Regions from separate parts of the Homo sapiens genome. Here region 1 is linked to region 2. Evidence: fine-mapped expression QTL. Tissue or cell type: tibial artery. Region 2 holds a variant in brackets; the other region holds the start of a gene. All regions are shown on one strand. Distances are from middle to middle. Region 1 holds the start of HCRTR1 (hypocretin receptor 1). Region 2 overlaps TINAGL1 (tubulointerstitial nephritis antigen like 1).

Evidence for each region. PIP is the estimated chance that this variant, and not a neighbour inherited with it, causes the effect. A credible set is the group of variants that fine-mapping cannot tell apart.
Region 1: it holds the start of HCRTR1, and the variant in region 2 is the best candidate, but not a certain one, in a credible set for the expression of HCRTR1 in tibial artery (GTEx, PIP 0.88).

Annotation. Positions count from the first base shown.
Region 1 is chr1:31,615,136-31,619,512 of GRCh38, reverse strand. It overlaps HCRTR1 (hypocretin receptor 1), which reads right to left and starts at 1,824. Exons shown (of 9, transcript NM_001525.3): 1 at 1,632-1,824; 2 at 697-757; 3 at 122-462. The coding sequence starts at 320. RefSeq lists enhancers at 1,219-1,908, 4,134-4,377.
Region 2 is chr1:31,586,288-31,590,664 of GRCh38, reverse strand. It overlaps TINAGL1 (tubulointerstitial nephritis antigen like 1), which reads right to left. Exons shown (of 12, transcript NM_022164.3): 11 at 3,910-3,955; 12 at 2,979-3,826. The coding sequence ends at 3,686. Among named protein-coding and RNA genes, the nearest start is that of TINAGL1, 12 kb to the right of the region's middle. The variant GC/C (reference allele first, on the strand shown) is at 2,024.

The sequences.
Region 1 (4,377 bases), 29 kb before region 2:
GAAGCTGGTGGCAGAGCCACACCCATCCTAGTTCTGCCTAATCAGCGAGCCCTCCTCCCACACAACCCCCTTCAATCCCCAGGGAAAGCCGGCAGCACTGCCGGGCAAGCCCTGGACCTACCCAGCGTGTTGCCCACCAGGGCCACGACGAACACAGCCACATAGGCTGCGATGAGGACCCACTCATACTGTTTTGGGTACAGATAATCGCGCCACAGATAGCGGAGAAACTCATCTTCATAGTCTGGAGGCACAGGGGACGGCTCTCTGCTGCCAGGGGGGACCCCCATCTGGGCCCCTGGGGTGGCTGAGGGCTCCATGAGCTCAGGAGCCGCTGCAGCAGAGGGGCATCCTAGGCTCTACAGAGGGAGAGGAGGGAGCTTGGGCCAGCCCTCAGCCCACTCCCTTCAGGGTGCCTGGAGGCTTGCACCCAGGTCTTTTCGGGTCTCAGCCTCAAACTTCCTGAAGGGAGGAAGGAAAGGAGGGAGTGGGAAAAGAGAGAAGGAAGGAAACATTAGGGATTGTGCCAGGCGCTTTGCGTATAAGTTCCCTCTTAATTCTCACAGTCATGAAATTGGTGGAGGAAGACAGACCTGGGTTGCATCCCAATTCCACACCAGTTGCCTTGGGTAGCTTACCTGGCCTCTTTCAGCCTTGGTTTCCCCATCTGTCTAATGGGGTGACAGCCCTACATACCTTACAGGACCACGATGAGGAGTAATGAGCTCCGATGCGTGCCAAGTGCTTCACCAAGAACCTGGTACGAGAAGGTAGTTTCGGGGACGTTTCCGGTTACCATTATTAGGGTACCCTGCTTTGCAGATGAGACCGAAGCTCAGAGAGATTGAGTCTCTTGCTCAAGGTCACAAAGCTCTTAAGCCAGGTCTGTTCGAACCCACCAAACACCGTAGATTTGGGAGGAGAAGCCATCCCGATTGCAAATATTTCTTGAGCCAGTTCAGAGGCTTTAACTTTGGGTTGGGAAAACGGGCCAAGGGAGGTGTTAGAGACCCAAGCCCCACCCGCCATACCTGCCAGACCCTCCGGTGGGCACTCGCGGACACGCACACATACAACACACACACAGTGGGGGTGGTGCGCGGAGGGACTGACGACCCCTTGCGAGCAAGGGGAGCATCCAGGCCCCCTAAGAGGCCCCTTTGGGTCCCCAGGGCCGCGACGCTCCCCGACGGCCGCCAGGAGCCGCTGTTCCGGCGCGCGGGTCGCTCTCCATTCATAAATCCAGCCAGCCCAGCTCCCCGCCCCTCCCCTCCTCCCGCACTCAGCCCCTCCTTCCCCCGGCTGGGCTAGGACGACCCCGGCCAGGTGCCGGAGGGTTGCGGATCCCTGGAGACCCCTGGGGAAGGGGAGGGGACGCCTTCATACCCCACTGAACGCCGGCAGGCCCGCTCCGTCCGCGGGACCTTCCTGCACCTCGGGGGCTGGCGGGGCTCCGGGAAGGCGCGGGGGAGCGAGGGCACTCGGAGCCTGCCTAGAGGAGAGCAGCGCTGGCCGAGGAGCCAGTCTCCCAGCACCCAGGTTACCCCCCGAGACTCTTGGCTCCTCCCATCCCTCGCCGCGGGTCCTTTGGAACCCCCATCCCAGGCCTGGGGGTCCCCCACACCCCGCACCTGTTGGCTCCGGGACCCGGGCGTTCTCGGCTGCTGGTCCCCGGACCTGGCACCGGGGACTTCGCCTTCCTGCGAGGAAGGCCGAGCCTCTAGGGGCCGGGACTGCAGGAGGGGGCCGGGGCAGCCCCCTCCCTAGGCTGCGCTGCCTCGGCTCGCGGGGCTCAGCACGATCCGCGGCAACTGCGCGGGCTGTGGCTCGGCGCGGGCTCCGCCGGGCTGCGCGCTGCGGGGAGGGAGGGCCGGCGGGAGGGGCAGGGCGGGGTGGGAGCCCCCAGACGGTCTTGGCTCCCTGTCTTCCAGCCCCGAGACCCGCAGGGCGGAGGGAGACGCTCGTTCCTTCTAGCCTCCCACTTCAAGCTTCCATCCCACCTCCATTCATGCGTCCATCCGTTCATTCATTCCATCCTCATTCATTCAACATTTATGCCCCTGGCCACCCCGCATTCTGGGCGCACTTAGTGTGTGCCGGCGGGCCTGGCAGCTTCAGAGGGCCACAGTGCAGAGGTGGAGCCCAGCCCCGCCTCTCCTTGCTGCCTCACCTAACTGAGGAGGAGGATGGCACAGGTGGGTCACAGGGGTGAGACAGAGAGGATGCCTGCACCGCCTCCAGCCTAGCTCCGGATGCTGCTGTAACAGCTAGCTCCCAACGATGCCAGAGAAGCCTGTTCTCCCATCTCCCAGCCCCCCATCCTATCTGCCCCCAGTTTCTCTTTTTGTTATACCTACTGTTCCCCCCAAAAATCAAGGACGCCGGTGGGGACAGAAGTGGGGGTTCGTTAATTCCACAAATAACGATTTATTAAGCTGTGTGCTAGGCAGTGAGTTCTAATAATACAGCTACCGTTTGGATAATGCATATGATGCCTGCTCTCATTTAATCTTCATATCAACCTGGTGAGGTGGTCGTTATTGTCCCCATTTTACAGATAAGGACACTGGATCCACATGGCGCAATGACTTGCCCAAGGTCGCACAGCAGAGGCAGAGCTGGGCTTTGAGCCTCTGCCCCTCTCAGGCCTCTAGCCTCTCTCACCAGACACAGTCTCCCTCCCCTGCAAAATCTCTCTGGCTGGTGGGGGAGGCAGGTGCACACCCAGGCAATTAACCTGTGGTGTGAGGAGGGTGTGAGGGCCCTGGGGGCTGTGGGGCACAGGAGGACAGACCGACTCAGCCAGGGCATGAGAACAGGCTTCCTGGAGCAGGGACATCTCCATGGAGACCTGAAGAATAAGAAGGTAGCCTGCAAGGGGGATTGTGGTATTCGAGGAGAGGCATTCAAGGTCAGGAAACAGCAGGTGCAAAGGTTTGAAGGTTGGGGATTCTGGAAATCACAGGTAGGTGAAGGGTGACTGCCTGAGCATCATGCAGTCACCTTGGCCATCCCCTAGCTCAGCATAGGACATTCCTAACATGTCACCCTCTGAAACTCACACTGTTTCCCTCCTGGGAGGTGACTCCTGGGATGCAACCACCATCTTTCCCATTGCAGCCAAAGCCCTTTTCAAAGGCTCTGAAGATGCGCCGTTAGGCATAGGAGGTGTGGGAGAGGAACTGGAGCAGCATAAGGGAGGGGGCCAGTGACCTTAACCTCTGCAGAACAGGAGGATGGACTGAAGCTAAACCCAAGGCAGAACTTTGTCCTTGGGCAGGTATGGCATCTGCATGGTGTGTGATGTCTTGTCTTCCCTAGGTGCTGGCCGAGGTAGGAGAATGAGTGAAGGGACTCAGAAGAGGGGCTGCTGTGTGTGTGTGTGTGTGTGTGCGTGTGTGCATGTGTGAATGTGTGGGTGTGTGCATGTCTGCATATGTGTGCATGAGTGTGTGTTTGTGTTTGAGTCTTGAATTCAAGTAAGGGCTGTGGTGTGTGTCTAGGGAATCCAGTGTGTTTGAGTCTGACTGTGCATATGAGCAGGGGGTGGGCTCTGGGTTGATGACTGGAGGTCACTCTGGGTGGGATGTGTCTGTCTGGGTCTTGATCTGTCCCTGTGTTTTGGCGTTTGTGTCTATGGGGAATGTGTATGTGTGAGGAGATGACTGTTTCTCAGTGTGGATCTGAATGTTCAACTGTGGCTTTGACTAGCACTGGCCTCCCAGCGTGTTTCCCTGTGAGTGTGGGAATGTGAGTGTGGCCATGCCTTTGTGTGTAAGGTTCTGTGAGTGTGCATATGTGGAACTTGGTACATCTGTTCCCACGGCAATGACTCATCTTATCCCCCCACATTCTCCCCCCTACCTGGAGCTGTGATTGTTTGCTATGTAGGGGCTGCAGAGGGGGCTGCAGCATGTAGGGGGATGGGAGGCAGATCGTGTGGGGACACTCCAATAACAGTTGCGGCAAACAAGGTTCAGCCCGCAGTGTGGAAGGTACAGATCCATGTTTGTCTGTGTGGGCGGTAGGCACTGGCCAAGCCCAGCACAGCCCAGGCTTAGAACCTAGCCCAGAGTGCAGATCTCCATATTACAGGGCCTCCCAGATACCATGGGTTGGAGTGGGCAAGGGGCTCGCCAGGCTCCCCCATGTCATGATACAGGGTGGTGCATGTCTGTGTAGGGAGGAAATCATGGCTGAGAATTCCCCCCAGTATACAATGTCACAGAGTCAGTCCCATCTCCACTTAAGAGGGATCTCAATTGCCAACCTTCCCCCACCCTTTATCCGTTGGTGCCCCAAAGATGGCTGCTCCCCAGGTCAAGGGATATCCTAAGAGATTCCTGCCATCACAAGCAACAGATCTCCCTGTCTCCC
Region 2 (4,377 bases):
GGAGCTGGGTAAAATAAGGCTGAGACCTACTGGGCTGCATTCTCAGACAGTTAGGCATTCTAAGTCACAGGATGAGATAGGAGGTCGGCAAAAGATAGAAGTCATAAAGATCTTGCTGATAAAACAGGCTGTGGAAAGAAGCCGGTCAACAGGTGCGGTGGCTCATGCCTGTAATCCCAGCACTTTGGGAGGCCGAGGCGGGCGGATCACGAGGTCAGGAGATTGAGACTATCCTGGCTAACACAGTGAAACCCCATCTCTACTAAAAATAAAAAAAAATTAGCCTGGTGTGGTGGCGGGCATGGTGGCGGGCGCCTGTAGTCCCAGATACTCGGGAGGCTGAGGCAGGAGAATGGCATGAACCCGGGAGGCAGAGCTTGCAGTGAGCTGAGATCGCACCACTGCACTCCAGCCTGGGCAATATAGCAAGACTCCATCTCAAAAAAGAAAAAAAAAAGAACCCGGCCAAAACCCACCAAAACCAAGATGGCACGAGAGTGACCTCTGGTCGTCCTCACTGCTGCACTCCCACCAGTGCCATGACAGTTTACAAATGTCATGGCAATGTCAGTAAGTGACCCTAAAAGGGGAGGCATGAGTAATCCACCCCTTGTTTAGCAGATAATCAAGAAAGAACCATAAATATGGGACACCAGCTGCCCTTGGGGCTGCTCTACGGAGTAGCCATTCTTTTCTTCTTCTTTTTTTTTTTTTTTTTGAGATGGAGTCTCGCTATGTTGCCCAGGCTCAAGTGCAGTGGCACCATCTCAGCTCACTGCAACCTCCGCCTCCCGGGTTCAAGCGATTCTCCTGCCTCAGCCTCCTGAGTAGCTGGGATTACAGGCCCACACCACCACGCCCGGCTAATTTTTATATTTTCAGTAGAGACGGGGTTTCACCACATTGGTTAGGCTGGTCTGGATCTCCTGACCTCGTGATCTGCCCACCTCAGCCTCCCAAAGTGCTGGGATTACAGGCGTGAGCCACCGCGCCTGTTGGCCGGCTTCTTTCCACATCCTGTTTTATCAGCAAGATCTTTATGACTTGTATCTTTTGCCGACCTCCTATCTCACCCTGTGACTTAGAATGGCTAGCTGTCTGAGAATGCGGCCCAGTAGATCTCAGTCTTATTTTACCCGGCCCCTATTCAAGATGGAGTTGCTGTGGTTCAGAGGTCTCTGACACTGGGGGGTCAGCCTGGCCCCTCCTGACCGCGGGAACCGCCCGCCTTGGCCTCCCAAAGTGCTTGGATTACGGGCGTGAACCACCGCGCCCTGCCGGAGTGGCCATTCTTTTATGCCTTTACTTTCCTAATAAACTTGCTTTCACTTTACTGCAGAGATTCACCTCTAATTTTTTCTTGCACGAGATCCAAGAACCCTCTCTTGGGGTCTGGATCTGGACCCCTTTCTGGCATCAACACGGGTCCGCAGCGCCAGGGCGGGCGGAGCTGGAGCCGGAGCCTTAGCCTCAGCCTTGAGACCCGGCGGGCCGCGCCCGACCGTCCCCGCCCCCCAGAGCTTCCTTGGAAGGTACCCGTAGAAAATTCCAGCCTCGCGGGGCCACCGAGCTGCCTCCGAACCGGGTTTTACCGGCGGGGCGGGTCCCGGGGCCACTGAGCGGGTGCGAAGGGGCCGCCGCCCCTTCGGGGCTCCCCGCCGGCCTTGGCTCCCTGGGGACCGGCGGGCGGGCCGCTGGAGCCGGGCTCTGGACGTCCTGGCAAACAGGAAGCGAGACAAAGGCGGCCACTTATCCGGCGCCCGCATTCCTTTCAGGTGATGCCCGTGAGGCCCGGGGGACGCGGCGATCCTGAGGGGCTGCCAGGGGCCCCCGGGGACCTCCCTGCCGCAGTCCCTCGGCGACTGAGGGTGCCCCTGCCTCCCCACTGGCTGGAGGTGGCGGCGGGGAGGATTCCTTGCGCTCGGGGATCCCCCTCCCAGGCACAGGCCCTTGGGCTCCCAGAAAGGAAGGAGCACCAGCCTGGCGTCTGTGCCCGGGGGGACGCAGTGGAGGCTTGGGAGGG[GC/C]CTGGAGGTGAAAGAATGGGCCATATCCACTCAGTCATTCCATACATTGGAGGGCCACCCTATACCAGGGTTTCGGTGTGGGTACCAGGACCCACTAATGAAACAGACCATCCCTGCCCTCTAGGAACTTCCAGCATAATGCGGAAGTTCAATAGATCCCAGATACCTGAAATATTGGGTGAAGGGCAGAGTGCAGATGATTTGAGGGAGGGTCTAACCCACGCCGGATGGGGATGGGGTGGCCTGGGCTCCTTGCACAGCCTCTGGCACTTCAGTGACCTTCACAGGCACTGTCTGGAAGAAGGAACCTTGGAGCGGGACAAGGGGTGGGTGGCATGGAAGGGCATCTGGCCCGGAGAGCAGCGTGAGCGAATGTCTGGCAGTCTGCATGTGTACCGGGCATTTGAGAGGCAGCAAGGAGCTGGTGACGAGGTTGGGCGGGTGGGTTCTGATGGCCTTGGAGCCAGGCTGAGGCCTGGCTTATTGTGCTGGCACTGGGAATCTGAGGAGGTGGGGTGGGAAGCAGGCTCAGCTTGGCCCAAGAGCAGGCCGAGGAGAGGCCCCCCTTGCCTGGATGGCTTGGAGAGACTGATCTACAGAGACAGAGGCTCCAGCTTCTGAGGGCTGTGCCCCCCTTGCCTGCTGGGCACTGGCACCGGTTCAGCTGATAGGAGTGCAGGGCTCCCCCTTCAGGCGGCAGCTGACTCAGCGTCTGAAAGGTGGTTCCCACGGTTCAGGTTTCTCTCTAGGGCCAAAGGCCATGCCATCCATGCCCCTCCCCCAAGTGGGTCAGTGCCCAGGGCATTGACAATTAGGGCTGAATGGAAGTTAGGATTTCCAGTCCCCCCACCCCTGCCAACCAGCAACACCTCAGGCAGTCCTTTCTGCTGTCTAACCACTGCCAGCCCAACTTTGGCTTGGCTTTCCACTCCCAGAGGTTCCAAGACACTGTAGTTATCAATACTTTGGTTTTATTTTAAAACAGTGAAAAGAAAAATAAATATCTGAAGAATAAGAATACAGGGCTGGGTGCAGTGGCTCATGCCTGCAATCCCAGCACTTTGGGAGGCGGAGGCAGGTGGACCGCTTGAGCCCAGGAGTTCGAGACCAGCCTGGGCAACACAGTGAGACCCCCCTCTTTACAAAAAATACAAAAATTAGCCAGGTGTGGTGGTGCACCTGTAGTCCCAGCTACTTGAGAGGCTGAGGTGGGAGGGTCACTTGAACCCAGGAGTCGGAGGTTACAGTGAGCCCTGATGGGCCACTGCACTCCAACCTGGGCAACGGAGCAAGACCCTGTCTAAAAAAAAAAAAAAAAGAATACAGGAGTGGGGTGGGGTAGTGGGGCTGGAGACTTGAGGTGTCCTGGCTTTGGTAGTCTTGAGTGGGGGCGCCAGAGGCCTGGGATCTGCAGCTGTGCTCTTCCCAGGCCAGGCCCTGCCCCGTCCCCACTGGGAGGTCTGGGGGCTCCGCCAGTCTCGCCTGCCCGCGGCTCCCAGGCGGGGCGCTGCGTCAGCGGAACCCGCGCCGGGATTAGCGCCCTGGCGCCCGCCTGCGCCCCGGGCTCTGTCGGGCGAGGCTGGGGTCACCGCCCCATTGGGGCCTCTTCCGCCGGCCCTTAGCCTGGATCCCAGGCCGGACCCCGCGTGGTGCCCGCAGCCTCAGTGATGACCCATGTCCTCCATGCCCACGCGGCCCCAGACGCCCAGCACGAAGCTCTCGATGTCGCACTCATTGACGCCGCGCACGATGCGGAAGTGGCCCCTCTCGCCCCAGGCTGGGCCCCAGGAGTTGGCCGCAGTCTGGGAATAAGGAGGGGTGGTGAGAAGGGGAATGGGAGTGGGGCGAGGGGAAGAGGGGGCGGGGAAAGGGTCAGCGGCCTCACCCAGTATTTGAGCGTCCTTCCATCTGGCAGCGTCTCCTCTCCCCATCTGTGGGCAGAGCAGAGGAGGGGGAAGGGAGCTGGGTCTACCTGCTCTCAGGAGCTCCAATCCCGGAAACCTGCCCCATCCAGCCCCCAGTTGCCTTTGGAGGGTTGGGTACACCCTTAGGGCTCAGGCAGGTCTCTGTACCTCTCTGCATCTCCCTCACTCTCACATCTGTAAGTCGGTGCACCCAGGCCCAGCATGGGAGGGGGTGGGGCACCAAGGGGACAAGTGGAGGCAAGGTGAGCAGAAGAGGAGGGAACCTGGGTCCTCCAGAGACCCACCTCCTAGGGGCCAGTTCTATGGGACCACACATCCACCTGCCCTCCCTCACTTGGGGATCCAGGGAGGGGTAGGTGCCAAGGGCCAGAAGGAAGACACTCTGAGAATATGGGTATCTTAGAGACCGCCAATTCCCACCGTAAAGC